Linked DNA regions of Homo sapiens. The protein of the gene in region 3 purifies or fractionates together with the protein of the main gene of each other region. This does not show direct contact. Each region holds a gene or a part of one and is shown on either strand. Other genes may lie near its edges. The genes, in order: ADD3, RAB11FIP3, ASAP2, DHX40, VILL, SEC24A and KATNIP.

What was found.
Region 1: the proteins of ASAP2 (region 3) and ADD3 fractionate together in Homo sapiens (co-fractionation; one large-scale study listed by BioGRID). This does not show direct contact.
Region 2: the proteins of ASAP2 (region 3) and RAB11FIP3 purify together in Homo sapiens (affinity purification with western blotting, with the first as the bait; one study listed by BioGRID). This does not show direct contact.
Region 4: the proteins of ASAP2 (region 3) and DHX40 fractionate together in Homo sapiens (co-fractionation; one large-scale study listed by BioGRID). This does not show direct contact.
Region 5: the proteins of ASAP2 (region 3) and VILL purify together in Homo sapiens (co-immunoprecipitation; one large-scale study listed by IntAct). This does not show direct contact.
Region 6: the proteins of ASAP2 (region 3) and SEC24A fractionate together in Homo sapiens (co-fractionation; one large-scale study listed by BioGRID). This does not show direct contact.
Region 7: the proteins of ASAP2 (region 3) and KATNIP purify together in Homo sapiens (tandem affinity purification; one large-scale study listed by IntAct). This does not show direct contact.

What each region holds. Positions count from the first base shown.
Region 1 is NC_000010.11:110,119,484-110,122,983, forward strand, and holds part of ADD3 (gamma-adducin), read left to right. Parts: coding exon 1-81; intron 82-2,626; coding exon 2,627-2,809; intron 2,810-3,500. UniProt on the Homo sapiens protein: Membrane-cytoskeleton-associated protein that promotes the assembly of the spectrin-actin network. Plays a role in actin filament capping. Binds to calmodulin.
Region 2 is NC_000016.10:519,649-523,511, reverse strand, and holds the end of RAB11FIP3 (rab11 family-interacting protein 3), read right to left. Parts: intron 3,759-3,863; coding exon 3,621-3,758; intron 3,391-3,620; coding exon 3,235-3,390; intron 3,054-3,234; coding exon 2,913-3,053; intron 2,787-2,912; coding exon 2,673-2,786; 3' UTR 501-2,672; downstream 1-500. UniProt on the Homo sapiens protein: Downstream effector molecule for Rab11 GTPase which is involved in endocytic trafficking, cytokinesis and intracellular ciliogenesis by participating in membrane delivery. Recruited by Rab11 to endosomes where it links Rab11 to dynein motor complex.
Region 3 is NC_000002.12:9,205,630-9,209,611, reverse strand, and holds the start of ASAP2 (arf-GAP with SH3 domain, ANK repeat and PH domain-containing protein 2), read right to left. Parts: upstream 2,801-3,982; 5' UTR 2,508-2,800; coding exon 2,382-2,507; coding exon of another isoform or gene 2,349-2,381; intron 1-2,348. UniProt on the Homo sapiens protein: Activates the small GTPases ARF1, ARF5 and ARF6. Regulates the formation of post-Golgi vesicles and modulates constitutive secretion. Modulates phagocytosis mediated by Fc gamma receptor and ARF6. Modulates PXN recruitment to focal contacts and cell migration.
Region 4 is NC_000017.11:59,600,110-59,603,609, reverse strand, and holds part of DHX40 (probable ATP-dependent RNA helicase DHX40), read right to left. Parts: intron 1,089-3,500; coding exon 994-1,088; intron 1-993. UniProt on the Homo sapiens protein: Probable ATP-dependent RNA helicase.
Region 5 is NC_000003.12:38,000,786-38,004,235, forward strand, and holds part of VILL (villin-like protein), read left to right. Parts: intron 1-670; coding exon 671-808; intron 809-916; coding exon 917-1,075; intron 1,076-1,610; coding exon 1,611-1,790; intron 1,791-2,382; coding exon 2,383-2,528; intron 2,529-3,450. UniProt on the Homo sapiens protein: Possible tumor suppressor.
Region 6 is NC_000005.10:134,662,285-134,665,784, reverse strand, and holds part of SEC24A (protein transport protein Sec24A), read right to left. Parts: intron 1-3,500. UniProt on the Homo sapiens protein: Component of the coat protein complex II (COPII) which promotes the formation of transport vesicles from the endoplasmic reticulum (ER).
Region 7 is NC_000016.10:27,738,644-27,742,143, reverse strand, and holds part of KATNIP (katanin-interacting protein), read right to left. Parts: intron 2,104-3,500; coding exon 1,224-2,103; intron 1-1,223. UniProt on the Homo sapiens protein: May influence the stability of microtubules (MT), possibly through interaction with the MT-severing katanin complex.

The DNA.
Region 1 (3,500 bases), on a different chromosome or scaffold from region 3:
CATGGTGTGGTTGCACTTGGAGAAACATTAGAGGAGGCTTTTCATTATATTTTTAATGTGCAACTAGCCTGTGAGATTCAGGTAGGAAACATTATTCCCCTTTTTTAATTGCTTTGTTATTTGCTCGTTTAGTTGGATTTTGTGTACTTATTTGCAAATACATATTAGTTAGTGGCTTTTTGTCTTTTAAGAGAAGTTCTGCTCTACTTATGTAGGCAGGGTTTTCAACTCAGTTATCTCTTGAATTGAAAATAGGAGTAAAGGAAATTAAAATTTTCTCACACACAATCTAAGGGCCTCATAAACATCATTTTCCCTACAATCCTGCTTTTTAAGTTAGTACAATTGCATATTTCTGTTTTCACCCTGTAGTGGTGGTACTAATTAAGGAAGAAAAACAGCTGCAAATCAAGAATCAAATGTGTTGTGGTCACTTTTGTAAAAAGTTTGACTAGGTCCAGAAGTTATATGAAATTGCAGTTTTCAACAATTCCACAGCCTCATTATGATGAGAGGTTGGATATTTATTAATCATTTTTTTCATCAGAGATGTTGAATGTATTTAAAGGCCCTAATTTTCTTTTTCTTTTTCTTTTTTTTTTAATTATACTTTAAGTTTTAGGGTACATGTGCACATTGTGCAGGTTAGTTACATATGTATACATGTGCCATGCTGGTGCGCTGCACCCACCAACTCGTCATCTAGCATTAGGTATATCTCCCAATGCTATCCCTCCCCCCTCCCCCCACCCCACCACAGTCCCCAGAGTGTGATATTCCCCTTCCTGTGTCCATGTGATCTCATTGTTCAATTCCCACCTATGAGTGAGAATATGCGGTGTTTGGTTTTTTGTTCTTGTGATAGTTTACTGAGAATGATGATTTCCAATTTCATCCATGTCCCTACAAAGGACATGAACTCATCATTTTTTATGGCTGCATAGTATTCTATGGTGTATATGTGCCACATTTTCTTAATCCAGTCTATCATTGTTGGACATTTGGTTGGTTCCAAGTCTTTGCTATTGTGAATAATGCCGCAATAAACATACGTGTGCATGTGTCTTTATAGCAGCATGATTTATAGTCCTTTGGGTATATACCCAGTAATGGAATGGCTGGGTCAAATGGTATTTCTAGTTCAAGATCCCTGAGGAATCGCCACACTGACTTCCACAATGGTTGAACTAGAGAGCCCGCATCGCCAAGTCAATCCTAAGCCAAAAGAACAAAGCTGGAGGCATCACACTACCTGACTTCAAACTATACTACAAGGCTACAGTAACCAAAACAGCATGGTACTGGTATCAAAACAGAGATATAGATAAATGGAACAGAACGGAGCCCTCAGAAATAACGCCACATACCTACGACTAGCTGATCTTTGACAAACCTGAGAAAAACAAGCAATGGGGAAAGGATTCCCTATTTAATAAATGGTGCTGGGAAAACTGGCTAGCCATATGTAGAAAGCTGAAACTGGATCCCTTCCTTACACCTTATACAAAAATCAATTCAAGATGGATTAAAGATTTAAACGTTAGACCTAAAACCATAAAAACCTTAGAAGAAAACCTAGGCATTACCATTCAGGACATAGGCATGGGCAAGGACTTCATGTCCAAAACACCAAAAGCAATGGCAACAAAAGACAAAATTGACAAATGGGATCTAATTAAACTAAAGGCCCTAATTTTCTCTTTAAATCAAGCAGATTTGGCCAGGCACGGTAGCTCATGCCTGTAATCCCAGCACTTTGGGAGGCTGAGCTGGGTAGATCACCTGAGGTCAGGAGTTCGAGACCAGCCTGACCAACATGGAGAAACCCCGTCTGTACTAAAAATACAAAATTAACAGGGCGTGGTGTCATGTGCCTGTAATCCCAGCTACTTGGGAGGCTGAGGCGGGAGAATCGCTTGAACCCGGGAGGCGAAGTTTGCAGTGAGCCGATATCGTGCCATTGCACTCCAGCCTGGGCAACAAGAGTGAAACTCAGTCCTCAATAAATAAATAAATAAATAAAGCAAATTCTCATGAAGCAAATGGTAATAATCTTAATTTATTGGAAGGGCCACAAGAAAGGGGGAAAAGAACAACTAAAAAAAAACTTTTTCTACCAACATTAACTTGTCCTAACAATCAACTTATTTTTGCTTTAATGGTTCCTCCTCTTCTCAAATGGGGCTATGAAAAGCTTAATTAAATTAAGATAATGAGCTGATGGCTTCTGCCTAAATATCTTTAAATTCAAAGTACAGTGTTTTTGTATTTCCTTAAAATTATAGCTTTTAGCAAAAGTATTAACTGGATAACCCTGGGAAAACTTCAAGAAAAGAAATTTAAAATTTGGCAGCAGAATTCCGTGGCTTAAAATATGTTAAGAGGTATGGCTCTAATGTGTTTTCCATCAGGGAGGATCAGAGTCTTGGAAGGTTTCTTTTTCAGATAGGTGGAAAAGATACTTCAGCTGTCTGCTGGCACAAGAGTGTCATCTTGTCTTTGTTGTTAGTAGCCTGAGCAAGTATTATAGATATTTGCCAAATTGAAATTGTGCCTTTTTGAAAGTAAAATACTCATTACAGTCTTTATAGTTTTGTGTCTCTGTATATTTTACCATTGATTACAGGTGCAGGCCCTAGCAGGTGCAGGTGGAGTAGACAATCTCCATGTACTGGACTTTCAGAAGTATAAAGCTTTCACTTACACTGTAGCAGCGTCTGGTGGAGGAGGTGTGAATATGGGTTCCCATCAAAAATGGAAGGTTGGCGAAATTGAGTTTGAAGGGCTTATGAGGACTCTGGACAACTTGGTAGGTTGCAAAATTGAAGTAAAACTTGGATTTAATGTCTTCAGATTCAAGAGCAGATGCTTCCATTTTTGTAGAACATGCTCCATACTCTTCCAGAAGCTGAGTTTGGCCCTAGGAAAGCATTTCATTGTTATTTAACCACACCTTTGAGAATTAAACAGAACTTACAAATGTCGTGTTTTTTTTTTAAGATTACAATATATTGTTATTAACTGTAGTCACCATAGTACAATATATCTCTTGAACTTTTTCCTCCTAACTGAAATTTTGTATCCTTTGATCAACATCTCCCCACCCCCACCTCCTTGTAACCACTATTCTACTCTACTTTTATGAGTTCAACTTTTTTTTTTTTCTTGGAGGCAGGATCTTGCTTGGAGTGCCGTGACACAATCAGGGCTCACTTGCAGTCTCAACCTGCTGGGCTCAAACCATTCTTCCACCTCAGCCTCCTGTGTATCTGGGACATAACGTGTGTGCCACCGTGCCTGGCTAATTTATTTTTTTTTTTTTACTTTTTGTAGAGATAGGGTTTCTCCATGTTGCCCAGGCTGGTCTTGAATTCCTGGGCTCAAGCAGTCCTCCCACCTCAGCCTCCCAAAGTGCTGGGATTACTGGCGTGAGCTGCCATGCCCAACAAGTTCAACTTTTTAAGACTCTGTATATAAGTGAGATCATGGGGTATTTGTCT
Region 2 (3,863 bases), on a different chromosome or scaffold from region 3:
CATCTCCATCTGCATCTGAGAGTGACAGGCAGGCGGGCATCTCGCGCGGGGGGCGGGAGAGCGAGAGCCGCAGATGCACAGTCCGCTTCCTGGATGCTGGACCAGGTGGTCCAGTTTTCAAGGCTTGTGTTTTTGGGGGACTCTTGATCAGATGGGACCACTCCCCGCAGGCCATTCTTTGTGGCTGCAGTGGCACTGAGCTCTCTCAGACTCCCTGGCTGCCCATGACCTCGGGAGCCCACTTCCGTCGGGACCTGCCTCCTCACCTTCCCGTGCCTGTGGTGCTGGTACTGTGTCTGCCCCCTCTTCTGGGGGATGTCCTCCCACCACCCTGCACATCACTGCCCTTTTAAATTCTTTCTGAAATGGGGTCTCGCTGTCGCCCAGGCTGGAGTGCAGCGGTGTGATCACAGCTCACTGTAACCTCCGTCTCCTGGACTCAAGCAATTCTCCCACCTCAGCCTCCCAAGGAACTGGGACTATAGGTGCGCACCACAATGCCTGGTTAATTTTTTATTTTTTAGAGATGGGGCCTTGCTATGTTGCCCAGGCTGGTCTTGAACTCCCGGGTTCAAGCGATCCTCCTGCCTTGGCCTCCCAAAGTGCTGAGATTATGGCGTGAGCCTCTGCGCCCTGCCCCCCACTCTTCTCTTAATCCCGGGGACGTTTTGACGGCTCTCCCGACATGGGACGTACGTCCCCAGAGGCGTGTGACCCAGAGCCCTGATGCCCACACAGCCCTGTGCTGCCCAATTTGCCCCGCCCCACCTGCCCCACCTTGATGCTGTCTCAGCAGCTCGTCAGGATCCAGAACCTGGCTGGAAAGCTGCCAGGCTCCACTGGGCCTGGAGGTGCAATCCTACGGCCTTGGAAGGGTCTTAGTCTGACCAAGCTGCAGAGCCAGGCAGGTCTGCTGGGTTCTGAGCTCAGACAACTGATGGCCTCGGACGCCTTGAGGGAAGCTGGGCCAGGCCCAGAAGACTCCCACCCCACCCTGTGGCCCCCCTGGAGGAAGAAGCCGGCCTCTGCGTGTGCAGTAACAGCTTTAATCTGTGGTGGCCCCTGCCCTCCTGCATCCAGGCAGGAAGAGCCGTTTCTCGGGGAATTAAAGCAGGAGCGTTTCCCACACTGTCTCCTGGGAGTCCATGCTTACAGTGACAGCACTGCTGAGTGGTGCCATGTCACCAGGGCTGGGCCTGGGCACAGAGAGGCAGGGTGCCAGTCTTTATATATTATACATATATATATATATATATATATATATATTTCATGTGTATACACAGTTTTCTCTTGAAAGTATTAAAAAATTGATCAACCTTCAATCTATAAAAAATACCTACTCTACATGATAGAAAAATCTCTCCTCCAAGTTTACACTGATTTACACCCAAGGCTTTCCCCAAATGTACAATAGGAGGCGACCTCTTACATCCTAGCGTGGAAGGCGGCGGATGTGGGGCCACACGTACACGCGCGCGCACACACACGCAGCGGGTGGCCAGTCTTGGTGATGGGGTCTGGGCCCACCCGGGAATGCTGGGGGTTGGGGCAGGCCCGCGGTCCTGCGGGGTGACACCGCTGTGCCTGGGGTGCAGACCCCGAGAAGCACAGGCCCCCTCCTGCTCTGCTGTGAGTCTTCCCTGCCCTCTCCCTCCTGCAACATGCACCCTCGGGGAAGAACCACGATTTCTAAGTGAGACACACCCAGAAGAAAACAGGGTTCCCGATGTTTGGATTCTGGCCTGGGAAGTGCGTGGGGAGGGTGTGGCCTTTAGGAGGCCGGGCCAGGCCGCACCTGTGGAGAAGCAGCACCTGGGAGCCAGAGGGGCCTGTGGCATCCACCCTGCCCAGGGAGAGAGCGCCACACAGCGGTCATCTCAGGTCCTGATGTCGGAGTGGAGGCCCCAGAGGCTCCTGCCCGGCCCCCATAGGTGGTCAGAGCCCCCAGGGGTTACTGCAGCGAGGACTGGGCCGTGGGAACAGCCACATGGCCTGGAGGCCCCAGAGCTGGACTGAGGTGACCACATCTGGCTGGGCAATGGCCCGAGCAGCGTAGGGAGAGCTGGGGAACGCACCAGCCTTGCCCACCCGTCCTTCCCCCACCACCATGTCCGAGGTGAGGGTCTGGGAGCCCGTCAGCCATCAGGAGCGGCTCAACATGGGTGACACGGCACCAGCGTACTTATGTGGGTGGCTTAGGCAGCAGCACCCCTGGAGGGACCTGTTTTCTTCCTTTCTTCCCAACAGGGCTGCACGTGGGAAGAGGGACCACCACAAGGAGGCCACAGCAGGGCTCACCCCACACCGCTGCACAGAGAGGCTCTCCAGCCCATCCTGCTGAACTGAAGTGTACGCGTTCATGGCCAGCTTGACTCAGGGCTGGGAAGCTCTGGGCCCCCGGAAGGTCAGCGCTGATGGACGGCCCTGCCACAACCCTCATCCTCTGTGGACCCCGGGCCCTGGGACTTCCCTTTCTCCCTCTCCTCTCCACCACCCTCTGCCCCTTTGGCAGCCCCGGTCTTTGGCGGCCCCAGCTCAGCTGCACGAGGGTTCCCTGCATGCTCTGGGCACTGTCGGCTGTGGGACCTGCTGGTCTTGGCTCCTCATGGTCTGACGGAACCACTCCAGGGTGTTGGAGTCCCGAATCCAGCTCAGGCTGGACCTTCCTGCCTCTACTTGACCTCCAGGATGGACGGGTTGGTCTCCATGATGGCCACGATGATCCTGTCGATGTAGTCCTGCAGGCGGAAGTTGATCTCCTCCTGCTTCTGAATCGCCTCCATGAGCTGTAGGGCAAGCAGGTGGTCAGAGCTGAGGCGCATGGGCCACAGGCCACAGCGCATAAACCACAGCGCACAGACAGTGCAGACTGTGGACCCCAGGCCACACCGTGCAGACACGGGATGTGTTACCTCATCTCGGGAGACGGAGCTGATCTCTGCAGCCAGGGACTCAGAGAAGGCTGTGGAGAAGAGGCTCTTGGCGCCCTGGATGCTGAGGGTAATGATCTGCCCGTTCAGCTCCTCGTTCTGCTCCTTCAGGTTGCGGTTGTCCTGAAGGCACAGCAACATCACTACTGGGCTGTGGCCCCTGCTGGTGGCTGAGCAGGGACAAGGACTGCCCGGGGAAAAAGGCCTCCAGCTCAGATGCTGACCCTCCACGGCCCCCCCTTCCCAACCAGTCTTGTGGAAGCTTCTGCAGGAGTGTGAGGGAGGGAGGCCCAGGCCTGCCCACCTGCTTCAGCCTGCGGACCTCCTGCTCCAGCTCGCTCTCCCGGGCGCGGCTGTGGTACTCCTGCAGGCCCATGCTGCTGCTGCGGCCCCGCCGCTGCTCGGCCTCCAGCTTGAGGAGCTGCAGGTGCTCCAGCTGCTTTCGGAGGTCCTCGATCAGCTGCAGGGCAACCGTGCAGTGAGCCGGGGGGCCTGGGCTCCCAGGGGCCACCGTCAGCCATCACTTGGCTGTAGAACCTCAGGGTTGATCTGGCCGTCTCTCGGGAGGACGACACACACCAGCGGCTATGCCCAAAGCAGCACAGCCAAGAGCTAGCGTCTCAGGAAACAAAGGCTCCCCGTGGGGCAGGCTGGGCGCAGGACTGGGCGTGGGGCAGGGTGGGTGCTCACCTCCTGGGTGGCCTCCTTGTCCCTCTGGAACTGGTGCCTCTCGTGACTCAGCCTGTCCCCCATTCTCCTCTTGTTCTCCTGCTCTTCACTGAGCCGCAGCGTCAGCGACTCTATCTCATCCAACAGCTTCTGCTTCTCCTGCAGGGGTGGACACCTGCCCTGGATGCGGGTCACGCACCTACCTGTGCATGCAGCTTGCCCCGGCCGTCTGTCCCTCCAATCTCTGAGTCTCCCAACAGCAAC
Region 3 (3,982 bases):
GGCAACAAGAGCAAAACTCCGTAACAAATAAATAAATAAATATAAAATTAGTTTGCTAGTTCCGTGATTCATTTGTTTAAACATAAGACCAAGAGCTTGCAAATTTTATTTATTTGTTAAATGAGTAACTTTATGTCATGATACCCTCTCATGTTTCGTCTCAGTATGAGAAGATTTTTGTTTAAAACCAAAATACTGTACACATCAATTGTTATTAAACCATACATAGAACAAGTTTTGGTAATAGACACGAACATTAGACACCTGGGAAAGAGCATTATTTAAAGAAATCCACATTGATTTACCTCAGAAAGTGAACAACTTTCAAATTTAGTTATAAAACCAAGCTCACACATACCATCATCATAGCATGTATGTAGATTTGCTTAAAGTGAAATAAACCTGAAATGATTTTAATTTTTCCATTTTGAGACTTGAACCAATTCTTGGGCTTAGACGGCAGCATGAAGCAAGCTTGCAATTTAATGAAATGACCAAATCCAGTCTCTTTGTAATCTGCTCAGTAACTGAGCTCTAGGGTAATCTCCTGCACAGCATACAAAAAGAGCTTTGGAATTATACACTGTAAACTAAAATTAATCAGAGAAAGGTATGCCAATTTTAATAGCAATTCTTGTTTGCTTGGCTTTCCAACATCTGCCAGTGTTAATAATATTTAACTGACAAACTGCAGTGGGGAAAAGCAACAGAACTTTAAACATAATCAAGCTTTCTAAAGAAAGACATCATGCACAATGCTTCCTTCCCTTAAGAAATATTCAGCTACCTTTTTGGTTGCAATCATTCCATAAACATTATTAATGGTGTATTCTCAAAACACCGTGCTTTTTAACTGGCACTTAGGAAAAAATTTCATTCACCCATCCCCATCTGCCTCATTTGAAGGCATCATCTGTAAGCCTTGCTGCTAAAAGTAGAATTAAGTGATCTGGGGAATCACCGAATTCATAGGAAAGGTTTACATGCAGCTCTCTTCCGCCAAATTAAATGGAGAGAAGGAAGGCTACCCAAGTTATATTAACAGGATTCAGAATGCTGAATGTTACTTTTGACTCCCTTTTATTGACTGTTTACAGCTACAAAGAAAAAATTTTTCCATTAAGGGAAAACATTCTGGATTTTTTTTCAAGCAATTCCTAATAGCAGATGCTTTGTTCAAATGGGAAAAAAAAAAAAAAACCAGAAAAAAAAAATAACGCCATTGCTTCATTTAAAGCTCTTTGGTGACACCCACCCCCCCACCCACACACACACTCCTGCTAGCCCAGGCGTCTTCTGCTAAAACACCTGCAATACCCAATTTTAAAACTGTAACCTGACATCCTGGCCCAGAGACATTTAATCACAGATTCACTATTGCCACACGTGTGACTTGTAAACCTATTCTGAGCCGAGCAGAGTGCTAAGCACTTCACACAGTCTCTGATCCTGGAAAGGATGCATTACTAATCCCGTTTGATGGGTAAGGAAAAGGAGGACTGCAGGTGAGGATGTGCCTCAAACCACAGCCAACGGTGGCCCCTGGACTCACAGACTCTGCCCCTTTCCCCACGGCTTTAATTTTCAACCAAGCTTCTTCGTTCCTACGTGTTCCTCTCCCCAGGACCTGGAGAGCGTACTGCTTAGCAGCTAGGCGTGATGACTTTGCACCTTGAGAGCACTTTACTAAAACCAGGCCTTTTCCAGGTTGAGGGGGAAGGGCGGCATTCCGGGTTCAAGCAGGTGAGACCCAGGTAACCGGGGAGCGGCTCCTGGAGGCTTCTTGGACCCAGAAGCGCCGACTCTCACACACCTTGCCCGCAGTTCCTTCTCCGGGCACGGGTGGAGCGCAGCCAGGCCGCCCTGGCTGAGGCGGGCACGCCTTCCCGGGCAGCCCGGGATGCCCCGGACCCGCGGACCCGAGGGTGGGGGCCCTGCGGCGCTCGGGGGCTGCGGCGGGGAGCTCGGAGCGCGGAGCTGCCCCCGCCGGTCCACTTCAAGAACAAGTTGATAAGGTCCGCACCGGGTACCAAAGACCCCGGGCGGCGGCGGGCGGCGGCGGGCAGCGGGATCCCCCGCTCGCCGCGGACCCCGACTCTGGACAAAGTTGGCCGCGCTGCGGGGAAAAGACCAGGCCGCGGAACCCCGCGAGGGCCACGAGGCCGAGAGAGGGGAGGTCTTAAAGAGGCCCAAGGTGGCCATCACCCATCTCCTCCGAGCCACCTAGGCGGGAACAAAGGGCTTCTGTCTCGGGCAGGGTTGGCCCGGCCGCGTCCGGCTTCGGAGCAAAGAAAGTTTTCTCGGGATGCGGATGCGGGAGCGGCGGGCGGGGCTGGGGCGCGGGATACCTGCGGCCGGAGCCGCCGCGCAGGCCGCCTCACCTCCTCGATGGCCGCCACAGTGTTCCGGCACTGCGCCGTGCGGGTGGTGAAGCTGGAGGCCGTGGGCGCCTTGTAGTCCTCATGGGTCTCGGCCACGAATTCCGACACGGAGATCTGGTCCGGCATCGCCTCGGCGCGAGGGCGCTGGCGCACAGCCGCAGGGGCGCCGCCGCCTCAACTGCCGCAGCAGGCTCCGACCGCCGCTCGGACACCGCCGCTGCCGCCGCCGCTCCGGCCCGCGGACAAAGGGGAGCGCCGGGCGCGGGAGCCGCGCGGGGCCTGGCGGCGGAGCAGGGGCGGCGCGCAGCCCCGCGCAGCTCGGCCGGTCCGCCCGCCTGCGCGCCGAGGGCTCCGAGTCCGCTGCCGCCGCGTCCTCTCAGAGCGAGCCCCGAGGCGGGCGCGCACAGCCGGCGGGAACTACCCGCCACCCAGCCGCGGGCCCCGACGCCTCCCGCGGAGAGGGGCGGGTCCGGGCCGGGGGCGGCGGCCGGCCGGGCGTGGGGCGGGGCGGCGGGAGGACCGGGCCGCCAATCGGCGCGCTCGCCGCTGCCGCGCCGCCGGGAAGCGGATCCCGCAGGAAGGAAGGCGGCGCGCGCCCCGGCCCGCCGAGCCGTTCCTGGCCGCCGCGCGCCGCATTGTCTCGGCGTTCCGGGCCCCGCGCGCCGCGCCCATGCCCCGCCCCCAGCCGGCCCGAGGCCCCGACTCCGACCCGCTGCCCGCGAGGGTGCGTGTGGAGGTGCGCCCCGCCGGAGTCCGGCCTTGTGCGCGCCAACCGCCCCCCGCCCACGGCGCGGAGCACCTCTGGGCTCCCCACTTGAACGGCGGGCCGCGCCGGCCCATGAGGAAAGCGGGGTGCGGAGCTCGCCCCCTGCCGGAGGATGCGCTCCGCCGGCGGGCACCCTGCGGGGACCACAGCCGGACGCCAGAAGTGACCTGACCGTGAATGTGCGCTTTGCGTGCAGTCATTGCATCGTCGCAGGCCTAGGAGACAGATGAAGAGATGGGTGCTTATTTTATATAGGGGACACAGTGTGCCCAAGAGCACAAGATAAACGGCCGGGTGGGGATTCAAACCCATGTTCCCTGACTCAAGTGTGAGTGCTTCAGAGCGGTGAGGGGCCCCTACTAAAAGTCCCAGTCGCGTTTCCTAGGCTGCCCAATGATAGGTATTCTCGGTTATAGTTTTAGGGTACTAGGCCAGGACCCACCCTGGGAAGGCTGCTGAACGCCCTGAAGTGGTATTCCCGCAGGCAGAGGAGGGAACCGAGGGGGTGCAGGAGGAGGAGGAGGGGGAGAACGTGCTACAGCAGCCAGCCAACCTCACACAAAACCGGGCCAGTAAAGGGTTCGAACTGGTACCGATTTTTATTTACAGCTCTTAAGGAAATTCTCGGTTATACTGAAAAATCCAGAAGCTCTGAAGATACCAGTCAAATAAAATCACACCCTATAACTCTACACCAGACTTGTGGCATGGTTTCTGTAGCTGCCAGCGGTAAAACCAAGAGAAACTTTACAAAAACCTTTTGTGCATCTGAAAAGGAGGAAGTGTGAGAGACACTGGAAATTCAATATGTCAGACAAAGCCGTCTCCTGACACT
Region 4 (3,500 bases), on a different chromosome or scaffold from region 3:
ATAATAATCCGCTACTATCACTACTTATTTTGATGCTTAAAGTGTCTCATATTTGATTACTTGGGGCCTCTTCATGCTGGCTCCTATGTTCTTCTGACGTGGCCTCAACCTTTGTTAATCACTTCTTTACTTGCTGGCAAAATAAGATATTCTGGGCTCATCTTGCATTTTCCCAGCCCCATTTCTCCAAAGACCCCTGACTCCTTTAAGTGGCAGATGGATGTCCCAAGTCAAGATCTGGGCACTATGTCTATTCATTGTTATTATCTCAGAGCTAGGGCATATATACATATAAATATTTACATACATACAAATACATTCTATATACACACACTAACATCTATTTTTATTCCAGTGTCCATCCATGCATCCATCTATAATGAAACCCATAACTTCATCATGATACACTGAAATTTCAATCCAACAGCACAGAGATCATTCCTATTTTCTCACTTTCGCTATTTCTAACTCCCTTCACCATTATCACTCACAGAGTTATGTGTTCAATTCCTCTGTATTTAATGAATCTCCATCACCATCACTGTTACCCCTTTCTCTATAAAGATGCCTTCCTCACTACACTCTGACTGATGCCCCAAACCAAATAACCCCTCCCCACCTTGCTCAAGCCCTAGCACTCCATGCCAAGCTACCCTTCCTCAGGGATGCTATGCTCAACCTACTTGGCTTTCACACTATACACAGGGCCACCTCTCTGAAAGAAAACTCTTGTTACTTGCCTTAAGTGAAGATAACCCATGCTGGACAGCCACCCTACAAACATACCCCTCCTACCCTACTTGAGCTCTAATACCACATTCTGAGCCACTGCAGCTCTCCCTCGTCACTGTAGCTCTCCCTCGTCACTGTAATTCATGTCATAATCATCACAGAGCTTAAATCAAATCTTCAATGTTTAATATTAAATAGTCCAATATTATAGTCAAATACAGTATTATATCTTGATCCATCTCTCAAGTCTTTATTGCTTACCTTCGAGCTACATTTTTGAAATAGCCCGCACAAAGACATCTTCGTAGTACTTCATGTTTAGGGCCTTCAAAGGTCTCTTTTGGGAAATCACTTTGCTATAAAAAGAATATGTAGAGAGTGGTAAATCTCATAGTACAATTTGAAATAATCTTTTATTTTGAAAAATCCACATTTCTAAAGACCTCTGTTTCTGGCCAACATAGATTAAGAGAGACCAGATTTACCCTTCCACCTGAAACCAAAAAAATGGAAAAAATACATGAAATAATGATTTCCAAAACACTGTAATATCAGGCAATAAAGGACAGAGACAGGAAATAAACGCAGTACGCCCAACAACTGCCCCAACTTCAGCCTTGATAAAGACTGCAGACCAAGGTACAGGGAAGTAAAGCCCAAATGGAACTCAGAGAACTCCCTGGGTTAGGGAGAGAAAGCTGGGAGTCCAGGAAGACCAAGGTGGCTAGAATTCACAGGACAAGAGTTCAGGAGAGAAGAGAAGTGCACAAAGACACAACTCCAGAGAGATGCAGAAGGTCCTCCTCAAGTGTTGAGCTGAGTAGTGATTAGCACATGAATGTGAGGAAACTACCAGCCCAAGAAAAGAACCTCTTAAAAGGATAAGTAAGGGCATGGTGTTTTCACAGGGCTAGTAATGGCGCCTGTTCCTATAAGCCACATGAGAATACTACACTACAGTAATTCATGTGATGTTAGGAAGAGTACTCAGATGGGCCTTGCCTCAGTAGAGGGGAATAACTAGCCCTGCACTGAGCACTGCTCTGATCCCACCTAACAAATCATGCAAGCAAGACCCAACAAGAAAGACCAAAGACCATTTCCAAGTAACTAGAACACAAAAATATCCAGCACCCAACAAGGTGAAATTCACAATGTTTGGCATCCGCTGAAAAATTATCAGGTATGATGTAAAGAAGCAAAAAAACACAATCCATAATGAGGACATCTATCAAAATCAACCTAGAACTGACACAGATCTAATTATATTTTATTATAATTTTCTGTATAGCTGGATTACATATGTTCAAAAAGTAGAGACCTGAAAAATAAAATGTAAAAATTTAAAGACTGAAATCCAACATCTAGAGATGAAAATACAACACCTGAGATGACAAATATACTAGATGGGATTAATGGCAGATTAGACTAGACACTGCAGGAGAAAAGATTAATGAACTTTAAGATAAGGCAAACAGAAAACACTCATAACGAAACAGAGAAATTATAACAGTGGTTTCCAGAGGCTGGAGAAAGAAGATAATGGGTAGGTTTTTTTGTTTTTGTTTTGAGTCAGGGTCTTACTCTGTCACCCAGGCTGCAGTGAAGTTGTGTGATCACAGCTCACTGTAGCCTGGATCTCCTAGGCTCAAGCAATCCTCTACCTCACCCTGCTGAGTAACTGACACTACAGGTGTGTGCCACAACGCCTGGCTAATTTTTTTTTTTTTTTTTTAGTAGAGACAAGGTCTCACTGTGTTGCCCAGGCTGGTCTCAAACTTGCTGGGCTCAAGTGATCCCCACACTACGGCTTCCCAAAGTGCTAGGATTATAGGCGTGAGCTACCATGCACTGTCGGGAATGGGGAGTTATTGTTGAATGGTTATGGAGTTTTATTATAGTATGGGATGATAAAAAAAAGTTCTGGAGATGGAGAAGTGGTAAGGGCTGCACAACATTGTAAATGTTTTAAGTGTGCAGTGACCTGTACGCATAAAAACAGTAAAAAAAAAAAAAAAAAAAAATTTTTTTGAGACAGGGTGCTGCTGCTCTGTTGCCCAGGCTAGAGTGTAGTGGCATCATACCTCACTGCAACCTCAAACTCCTGGACTCAAGTAATCCTTCTGCCTCAGCCTCCTGAGTAGCTAGCACTACAGGTGTGTGCCAACACAACAAGCTAATTATTTTAATTTTTTTGTAGAGACAGGGTCTCACTGTTTCTCAGGCTGGTCTTGAACTCCTGGCCTCAAGTGGTCCTCCCACTTCGTCCTCCCAAAGCATTGGGATTACAGGGGTTAATCATCAATGCCCAGTAGAGGTAAATTTTATATTAATTATTTTACCAAAATAAGATATATAAATTGAAAAACTAATAATCATGAGGAGTAAAAGATGCCAGACCAAAAAAAAAAGAGCATATACTGTTTGATTCCATTTATGTAAAATGCTAGGAAATGCAAACTTATATACAGTAAGTCTTCAATGTCAATGATAAGTTCTTAAAAACTGCAAAGTTAAGCAAAATTTTTAAGATTTTTTTTTTTCTCTCATCAGTGTTAAAACAATGGTGAATAAAACAATATTTTTCTAGGGCCTGCTGTATATCATTTTGCTTAAACTCACAGTTTCCAAGAACCTACTGATGACATTAAGTGAGGACTTACTGTATCATGACAGAAAGCAGATTAGTGGTTACCTGGGTTGGTGGGGCAGGAGGGCCTAGTAGGTGAGACAATGGATTATGAAAGGGAATGAGGACAGGTGCAGTG
Region 5 (3,450 bases), on a different chromosome or scaffold from region 3:
CTGTCAGGGTCAGTGTGGGAAAGGACACCCAGGCATTGTCTCCTGCCATGCAGAGGTGAGGTAAGGGAGGCGTCATCATCCCCAATATACAGGTGGGAAAGGCCCGAAGCTTAGAACAATGTCACTGCCAACACAGGGCCTACCTGGGATTTGACCAGAGTCCGCCTGGCTCCAGGCTCTGCCACCCACAGGAAGAAGAAACTACACTGACAGATGTGAGACAGTGTTTCCCCTTCAGTCTTTGAACAGGCTTTGTGTTTTCTAAATGACACTGGATAAAAGGGAATTCATTCAAGAGCTCCAAGGCTTCCCTTTCCGCCCGGCTTCTGTTGCCCTGGCCTGAGCAGCGAGCAGCTGGGAGGGGACTGAACTGCCCCTAACCAGGGTTGTGGCTGGTGGGGTTGGGACTAGGGCTGGGCATGTGGCTGGGATTGGGCCCATCTCCCAAGTGTGGTGGGTTTCAGGGGTCCGTGGGGAAAGGGTCACCTGCAGATCCTTGTACAAAGCCCAGCACAAGGCCCAGAATGGGCCTGGAGCTGAGGGTGGGCCCCTGGCCTGCGTGGATGAGGAAGGCCTCAGAGGCTGGGGAGAGCTTTCCGGTTGGGTACAGGATGGGTGGGCTGGTTCAGGAAGAGCAGCCACCTGTGCCCATTGGTCCCTTATTCCCCAGGTGTGGTGCATCCAGGACTTACACAGGCAGCCCGTGGACCCCAAGCGTCATGGACAGCTGTGTGCAGGCAACTGCTACCTTGTGCTCTACACATACCAGAGGCTGGGCCGTGTCCAGTACATCCTGTACCTATGGCAGGTGTGCCAGCCTGAGGGAGGCAGCACTCACCTTAAAGCCCAAGGGCTGGGCTCTGGGAGTGAAATGTGAGAGCTGGGCCAGGCCCTCACTCACTGCCCCCACCTGCAGGGCCACCAGGCCACTGCGGATGAGATTGAGGCCCTGAACAGCAACGCTGAGGAACTAGATGTCATGTATGGTGGCGTCCTAGTACAGGAGCATGTGACCATGGGCAGCGAGCCCCCCCACTTCCTCGCCATCTTCCAGGGCCAGCTGGTGATCTTCCAGGTAGGTCTCACCTTGCCACTCTGGCCACAGCCTGCCCAGTTCTGCATGGGCCATGGCCCCCGCACACACTTCTAAGCACCTTCTCTTTGGGCCTGGGGCCTGCTTATCATCCCCTAGTTTCCCAGAGCTTGTCCAAGGCCCAGGAGCTCCAAGGTTGGCCCCCTGCCTGAGTTTCCCTCCCCAGTCCCAGAGCCAGATGAGGAATTTGAGTTGAAAGGGAGCCAGGGGCTTGCCTGGGGCTGCACACTAGCAAACCTGGTCCCCACTTTCCACCTCCAAGGCCTGAGCACCCATGCCCCAACCACTCAGAGATGGGGGGAAAGGTCCATTTAAAAAGGGTCTGTCCCTGTCCCAGACTGATGGGATTCCTGCACTCCACACTTAGAGGGTCCTGTACTCCTCATGTGAAATCACCAGTGAGGGCCTTGATGGCTTCAAGCAAGGGTCCCTGAGCTCTGAGGCAATATGTCCCACACTGGGACAGGAAGGCGCCCCTGGGAGCCCTTGCCCAGCCTGAGGCCTTGCTCTCCTATAGGAGAGAGCTGGGCACCATGGAAAGGGGCAGTCAGCATCCACCACAAGGCTTTTCCAAGTGCAAGGCACTGACAGCCACAACACCAGGACCATGGAGGTGCCAGCCCGTGCCTCATCCCTCAACTCCAGTGACATCTTCTTGCTGGTCACAGCCAGCGTCTGCTACCTCTGGTTTGGGAAGGTACCCACAGCACTGACCACTTGATTCATGCCCAGATGTAGTGGTGCCAGGCTGGGGGTGGGTCCTCTCCACAGGGCATGCAGACTTTGAGTCCAGCCTCAGATAGGCCGATGGGGGGAATGGGGAGGGGAAGAAGCCACAGGGTCCCCTCTAGAACTTGGGGAAAGTTACAAAGTGACAGGTGGACCTGAGAGTCCGCAGGTCAGAGCCAGGCCCAGGCCGCCTCCCCTCCTTACTGCCTGGAGCACAGGGCATGTCCCTTCCCAGGTCTCTTGGGAAAAGGGGAGGCCTATGCCAGTTTGCTGGAGTTTTCTCTAATATTCAGCATAAACTATGACTGACCCTCTAAGCCTGGGGGCCTCCTATCCCATGCTCTGGACCCTGCGAGGGTCCCAGACCCTGCGATCCAGATCAACTGGGGACACAGGCCTGTAGGGTGAGGAAGATGCCTTGTTCACTGGTGTCCTGCTGTCAGCTTAGGCCTCCTGTGACTTGGGCCCAGCCCCACCCCATACACCCTGTGAACGGGACGTGGGGCCGGAGGTGAAGGCCCCTCCTCATGCAGGGCCTGAGCCATCTCTTTGCCTGCTAGGGCTGTAATGGTGATCAGCGTGAGATGGCACGGGTGGTGGTCACTGTCATTTCCAGGAAGAATGAGGAAACGGTGCTGGAGGGTCAGGAGCCTCCCCACTTCTGGGAGGCCCTGGGAGGCCGGGCCCCCTACCCCAGCAACAAGAGGTAACAGGGTTGGGAGGAGAGTGTTCTTACCCAGAGGAGGAATTGAGGCCCAGAGAGGAGGGTGGGTGACTGGGATTCACACAGAGAGCTGGCAAGACGAGACTAGAACCAAGGACTCTCAGTTTCCCACTCACAGAGGCTCCCACAAGTACAGCCCACGCTTCGCTCCCAGGCCTGGGTAACTTGCGTCTCTCAGATGCTGGGGAGAGTGGGGGCAGTGGCGACCTCTGCTGGCAGCATCCCCTCCCTGCATTGTCCTGGTCCTGGGCCAGGGGACAAAGCACCCTTCCCCACCCTACAGTCCTCAGGGATCACGGTGCCCAGTGTGTGTGTATACAGTGTCATATGATGTGTGGGTATACAGTGTGTGTGGATGTGCAAGAACAGGTGTATTCAGGGTGTTGTGTGTGGTGTGTAAGTGGACAGGGTGTGTGTAGGAGGTAGGAGTGAGGCCTCAAGGGGAGGAGGGAGCTGAGTCCTGGTCGCTCTTGGTCTGCCTGTGGGGCTTGGTTTATGTGCTGCACTCCCCACAATTCTCCTGAGCTCAGTACTCCCGTCTCCTTCTCCCAGCCTGGCTTGCCTCCTTCCACTTTGGGCCGGAGACCTACTCTCTGCCAGGGGTGGGCTGAGGAGCTCCTCCCATCCCAGGGAGGGCGAGACTCCAGCTCAGGCCCTCCCCTACCCCTGCAGCCCTCTCCTAGGGAAATTCATGGGGCACCTTGCGTCACAGCTGGGTGGGGCGAGAGCTTTCTCCATGAGCAGAGAGGGACCCTGTACCCAGAGCAGAGCGGAGTGCTCGGGGAGAAACCACGGGGCTCAGAGGAGGGCCCAGGGCTCCCACTCCTGAGAAGTGGCTTCCCAGGCCCTGGGGTGGGGCACTTGTGCCATGGGCTGGGGTGCCCCTCTGGGTGGCTCACAGCCT
Region 6 (3,500 bases), on a different chromosome or scaffold from region 3:
AGGAGTTCAAGACAAGCCTGCCAACATGGTGAAACCCCATCTCTACTAAAAATACAAAAAATTAGCCAGGTGTGGTGGTGGGCACCTGTAATCCCAGCTACTTGGGAAGCTGAGGCAGGAGAATCACTTGAACCTGCGAGGCAGAGGTTGCAATGAGCTGAGATCTCGTCACTGCACTCCAGCCTGGGCAACAAGAGCGAGACTCTGTCTCAAAATAAATAAATAAATAAATAAAAATAAAAATAGGGGGCCAGGAGCAGTGGTTCATGTCTATAATACCAGGACTTTGGGAGACCGAGGCAGAAGGAACACTTTTTTTTTTTTTTTCTGAGACGAAGTCTCACTCTTGTCCCCCAGGCTGGAGTGCAATGGCGCAATCTCGGCTCACTGCAACCTCCGCCTCCTGGGTTCAAGCGATTCTCCTGCCTCAGCCTCCGGCAGCAGCTGGGTCCACAAGTGCGCGCCACCACGCCCGGCTAATTTTTGTATTTTTAGTAGAGATGGGGTTTCACCATATTGGCCAGGCTGGAGGCTGATCTCAAACTCCTGACCTCGTAATCCACCCGCCTCGGCCTCTCAAAGTGCTGGAATTACAGTCGTGAGCCACCACGCTCAGCCTGAAATTTTTCAAAATGTTTCACCAATACTGTTAAATACTCCAGTATCAAGTTGAAAAATTGCCTATTAGGCTGGGTGCAGTGGCTCACGCCTGTAATCCCAGCACTTTGGGAGGCTGAGACAGGTGGATCACAAGGTCAGGAGTTTGGGACCAGCCTGGCCTATATGGTGAAACCCCGTTTCTACTAAAAATACAAAAAATTAGCTGGGCGTGGTGGCGCATGCCTGTAATCCCAGCTACTAGGGAGGCTGAGGCAGAAGAACTGCTTGAACCTGGGAGGCGGAGGTTGCAGTGAGCCGAGATTGCGCCACTGCACTCTAGCCTGGGCGACAGAGTAAGGCTCCGTCTCAAAAAAAAAAAAAAAAAAAAAAAAGAAAAAGAAAAATTGCCTATTACTGAATCTTACAACTGCTAACAAGACTATCAGTGCCTTGTTGACAAAAGTGAAGACAAAGATTATTGCCATGTAACTCCCTTATCAAAGAAGTGGTCACACATATCTATGGCAGTATAGACAAGTCAAAGGAACAAAGGGGCAAGGTACATGGCCAACTCAGCATGAACAAGAATGTAAAATACATCTGGCCACAAAGATGTAACCTACAACCTAATGTTTAACGAATAAAAGTAAACTTACAGAGATTTTCACAGCTTTTAGAAGACTATTTTTGAACAGATAATCATATATTTCATAAAATGAACATTTTTTCAAGTTGAAGAATTCTTATTTACGACACTGATAGCTAGAGTTTCAGAGTCTGCCCTCTCAGCCCCTAAATGAGTATAATGATGCTTAAAGGTGACCTATTAAAAAAATTCAGGAAAATTTAATATATGAACTAAAAACTTAGTATAACCTAAATACTCACAGCTTTGATACCAGACTATCAGGTACCAACTCTCAGTTATGAGTTGGAAAAAAGAAAAAAAATGAGGAATTTGAAGGTTCTTTGAAGGTTCAAATGAGAAAAAAGAAGGTTACTTTTTAGGTTCATTTTATTAGTTTATATGTTTTTATTTCCCCTTCTTTCATAAGTTTCAGCACTTTTTTTTTTTGAGATGGAGTCTTGCTCTGTCGCCCAGACTGAAGGTAGTGGTGCAATCTCAGCTCACTGCAACCTCCGCCTCCCAGCTTCAAGCGCTTCTCCTGCCTCAGCCTCCTGAGTAGCTGGGATTACAGGCACGTGCCACCATACTTGGCTAATTTTTGTATTTTTAGTAGACACGAGGTTTTCACCATGTAGGCCAGGCTGGTCTCGAACTCCTGCCCTCAGGTGATCCACCCGACTCAGCCTCCCAAAGTGCTGGGCTTACAGGCGTGAGCCACCATGCCCAGCCTCAGCACTTATTTATGTCTCTCTCACCAAATCTGTAGTGGAGACAAGGTGCTCTGAGGGTTTCTATTATAGCTAAAGAAATTTCAGATTATTGATAATGTACCTTTTTAAGAGAAGCTACACCTACTCTTAGTATTTATTTATTTTTAAATAAAATTATTTAAAAAAATAGAGATGGGGTCTTGCTATTTTGCTCAGGCTAGTGAACTCCTGGCCTCCTGGCCTCAAGTGGATCCTCCTGCCTTGGACTCCCAAAGTGCTAGGATTATAGGCGTGAGCCACCACGCCTGGCCCTTAAATAGTTTTTAAATAAATGTTTTCCCAAACTATTTTACTGTGGCTTTGGGCAAATTATTCAAGTCTTATACTTTAGATCTGTAAGAGACTGTTACGAAGATTAAACAAGATAATGCAGGCCTGGCTAGGTGGCTCACACCTGTAATCCCAGAACTTTAGGAAATCCAGGCAGCAGGATGGCTTGAGGTCAGCAGTTACAGCAAGCTATGTTGCAGTTAAGTGAGCTATGATCGTGTTACCCTACTCTACCCTGGGCGACAGGGTAAGACCCTGTCTATACAAAAAAATAAAGAACAAAAGATTAGCCAGGCACTGTGGCACGCCTACTCAGGGAGGTGAGGCGGGAGGATAGCTTGAGCCCAGCAGTTTGATGACACTAGGATTGCACCACTGCACTCCAGCTTGGGAAACAGAGAGACAGCCTATCTCTAAAAAATAAAAAGCAAAACAGAAAAACAGATAATGATATCAAAGTTTGATAGAGCCTGGAAAATAATATAGATAACATTTTTTTTAACACTTAAATTTTTTTTTTAGACCAAGTCTCACTCTGTCACCTAGGCCGGAGCGCAGTGGCACAATCATAGCTCACTGCAGCCTCAATTGCCAGAGCTCAAGCAATTCTCCCACCTCAGCCCCCCGAGTAGCTGGGACCACACATTCATTCATTCAAGTGATTGATGTGTGCCACCATATTCATTCATTTCAAGTGATTGATGCTCACTCATGGTATCAAATGAATTAGAACAAAAGTAACATGAAGGATTTTAGCTCTACTAATTGCAGGTCAGAAGATTTCCACAAAGAAACTTAAGTTTCTAGAAGCAGCTTTAATCTTTACAAGGCCAAAATGCATTCACCAGGGCCAATGTCTGATCAAAGGCTTGGAAAAATAAAGTTTCAGCCATTAACAATTTACAAGCCTGATGGAGTATATGCCATATAAACATACATAAGGTTAAAAAGGTAACTATTGATATTACTATTTCACTTGGAAGCCTACACTATTTCATAAACTTGAGGCTGTCTGCTGAGAAGTATCAACCTGCAGATCCCAATACAGAATTTTAAATGCTTTTCAAAGAAATATTGGCTCACACCTGTAATCACAGCACTTTGGGAGGTCAAGGCGGGCGGATCACGAGGTCAGGAGATCGAGACCATCCTGGCTAACACGGTGAAACCCCGTCTCTACTAAAAATACAAAAAATTAGCCGGGCGTGGTGGCGGGCACCTGTAGTCCCAGC
Region 7 (3,500 bases), on a different chromosome or scaffold from region 3:
CTCCTTTCATAATCAGGAATGCCCTTGAAGACCATCTAATCATCTACTGCAAAGTTCACAAAGCTCTCAGGGTGAGTCCTGCCAGCAGATGTGCCTTTTTTTTTTTTTTTTGACATATACAGTAGTTTAAAAATAATCTCAATCAGTTGCCAAAGTCAAAAAATAAGAAACATTTCTGGTTTCTCTTGAAAAAAGTAAAGAGGAGGTCTGGTACAGTGGCCTTGCATTCATTATTTTTTTTTGAGACGGAGTCTCACTCTCTTGCCCAGGCTGGAGTGCAGTGGCACAATTTCGGATCACTGTAGCCTCCACCTCCTAGGTTCAAGTGATCCTCCTGCCTCAGCCTCCCAAGTAGCTGGGATTACAGGAACGCACCACATGCCTGGCTAATTTTTGTATTTTTAGTAGAGTCAGGGTTTTACCATGTTGGCCAGGCTGGTCTCGAACTCCTGGCCTCAGGTTATCTGCCCGCCTCGGCCTCCCAAAGTGCTGGGATTACAGGTGTGAGCCATTGCGCCCGGCCTGGCCTTGCACTCCTAAATGCTTATTAGAAACCTGAGTGGAGTGGCAGCCGCCCTGTGGGTGGGCTTATGGTCTCCAAATTGCCAAAGTCCTCACTATTCCCTGTGCCACTTCCAACACTCAGGCAAGTGTCAATTGCTATGCATCATCACACTTGTGTTATTATTTTTTCTTTTTTTTCTTTGAGACAGAGTCTCGCTGTGTCACCCAGGCTGGAGTGCAGTGGCGCAATCATGGCTCACCGTAGCCTCGACCTCCTTGGCTCAAGCGATCCTCCTACCTAAGCCTCCCAAAGTGCTGGGATTACAGGCCTGGCCACTGTACCCAGCTATTTTTCTAACAGTACAGTTAAGGATAAAGTGAAGTGACTAGAGACCGATGTCTCTATGAAAGGCAGGAGAACAAAGTCTTTTGGAAAATGGCTTGGAAAAGCCATGTGTTGCAAGAAAAATGGGCAAAGGGACATACCTTGGTGGCAATGACAAATACATCTATGAATTTACCATGCAAAATGTGTCTTGCCCATTTCACTCATGTATGCATCTCTTTGGCCCCTGAGACAGTGATTTTGTGACCCTTAGTTGAGAACAACCATCTTGTTGTGCAGATAAGGAAACTGAGGTCCAGGAGCTAACTGGCTTCATGCCAATTAGAGGGGCTGGGATGATGATGCCCAAGTCGGGCTGCTCTTTGGAGCTTACCTCTGCTGGCTGGCTGGTCGTCCCCATGACTACTGCTGCCAGCATCCTTCCTTGAGCCCCTCCTCCCACTAGCAGGGCGCTCTCTGTTGGGGGGCTGGTTAAAGATGTCTGAGTCATCACTGTGGACTTTGGTGGTTGCCCTCTGGGGTCTCTCCTTGGTGTTGACACTCCGGCTGGTCCCCCACCCTGGCTCATGCCGTAGGCCTTTATCCCTGGCCTCGGTCTCTCCAGGACCCTCACCGATGACATCGTCTGATGGGAGCCTGCCCTTCCAGGCCAGGGGCTTCTCGGGACTAAGCCAGAGGGGTTTTGGCTTCCTGCCTCCCTGCTTCCTGTCCTTGCCGGTGGGAGAAGGTTGTAACCAGGATGGGGTTTTCCCGGGTGGCTCACAGATTTTTCTGCCCATGAGGTTTTCCAGTTGTTGGATGAGAGAGGGCTCCTCATGGACAGGAGGGCACTTCACAGGTGGGGAAGTGGCAGGAGCACTGGGCATGTCACCCATCGAAGTGGGGACTGCCGACAGTCTCAAATATTCCTCTAACTGGGACAAACTGTCTTTCCTGCAATTAGTAGAATTCTTTCTTTTGCCAGACACATTTCCTTGTGAAGAAAGCTTTGCATCCGCTAATGTTTCAGCTGGCGGTGAGCAACCGAGACCAAGCTCCTTGTCCCCGCTGGCACCAGCCATCTCATGGGTGCCTTTGCTTTCTTCCGAGTGAGCGTTCATGGCCTCCTCTAGTTGCTCGCTCTTCTCGTTCTTCTGGTCAACCAGGATGCTGTGGTCAGCTGGGGCCTCCCTATCTCCTTTGTCTAACTTGCCATTGAAGATGAGGTTTCTGTTGACGTAAAGCTTCACGTTCTTGGCACCAATGTCAAGATCCTGAAACCATAAGATTTAACAAAGTGAAGATGCATAGCATCAGACTGATGTATGAAATTTTGGAAGTCGAAGATACCAAAAAAAGAAAAGAAAATGTGAAATGCTAGAAATGCAAGCTTTTGAAAACCACAGTGCTGGGGGTGTGAAACTAGGCTTGGTCTCATTTCTGTGGGAACCGCTACATACTCTATAAATCAAAGGACTTTCACAAAGAGACGGCCTCAATCGCTGCCTTCGTCATCATTACCTCCTGTCGGGACATTCGTAATAGCCTACTAATGGGTCTCCCTGCTTCCTGTCTCTTGCTACTTTAACTTGGACTTCACATTGCCACCAGAGTTCATTTCCTACCAGAGCAAATCTGTCCAGTCATTCCCCTGTGTGAAATCCTTCATGTTTTTTCACAGCCTATAGCAGTGTTCTTTAAAGTCCAGTTCCTGAGACCATCTGCGTCGAAAAGCCTGGAGTGCTTATAAAACAGCTTTCCTGGCCTCCGTGGGCATCATAATTGGGAGACCGTAAAAGCAGAGGCTGAGACAAGGACTCGGGTGCAAGTCGAGTATTTGGCAGGTGATTCCAAGAGGAAATGGGGAAAGCAAGATAGGGCAGGAAAAAGGAAAAACCCAGTTTTTTTGAGCTGGTCACTGCTGTGGCCAACTGGTGCTCCTTCCCACGGGGGCCCTCTGCGGCACTCCAAGATCTCACTTTCCCCAACCCTAGTCTTCACCTATCTTAAAAATGGCTCCATCATTGAAGCAGTGGCCAAAAACCTCGTGGCCCCCTTGATCCCTCTCTTTCTCACTTGCCCATCCAATCCGCCAGCTGTCCCTCGCCTCTCTCTCCAGAACACTTCCTGGGTCTGACCTCTTTACCTGGAATGTGCTGCTGCCTTCCTTGCCCAGGCCACCAGGGTCTCTACCAGAGACACCACTGCCGCCTCCTAATTGGTCTCTCTGCTTCCACTCTGCGTTGTCTCCTCCAAATCCCTGCACTCACACTTCATTTTCTATGCAGCAGTGAGTTTTTTTTTTTTTAACTGAAATCAGATCATGGGAGTCTTCTGCTTAAATGCATGTCGCAAATGTCTCTCCAAGACTGGGACATTTATCCACTGCTTGTTGAAGGCTGCCCTCAGGGCACTGATGCCCCAACACATGCACGAGCTGAGTGTGCTCCCACGGCAGAGCACCCCACGAGCACCTGAGGCAGGGCACTGTCCACATGCGGGGACTGTCCCATGTTCACGGCAGCTGCAGTTGGAAGGGAGCCAGGAGGATGCCGTGTGAGGACCACTGCCTCAAGGCAGCCTGTAGGTAACTTCTGGACTCAGAACAAGTTCTCCGGATGATTTCTTCACACGACGGGGTGCAGAACCATGCCGATGATGGGATAAATTC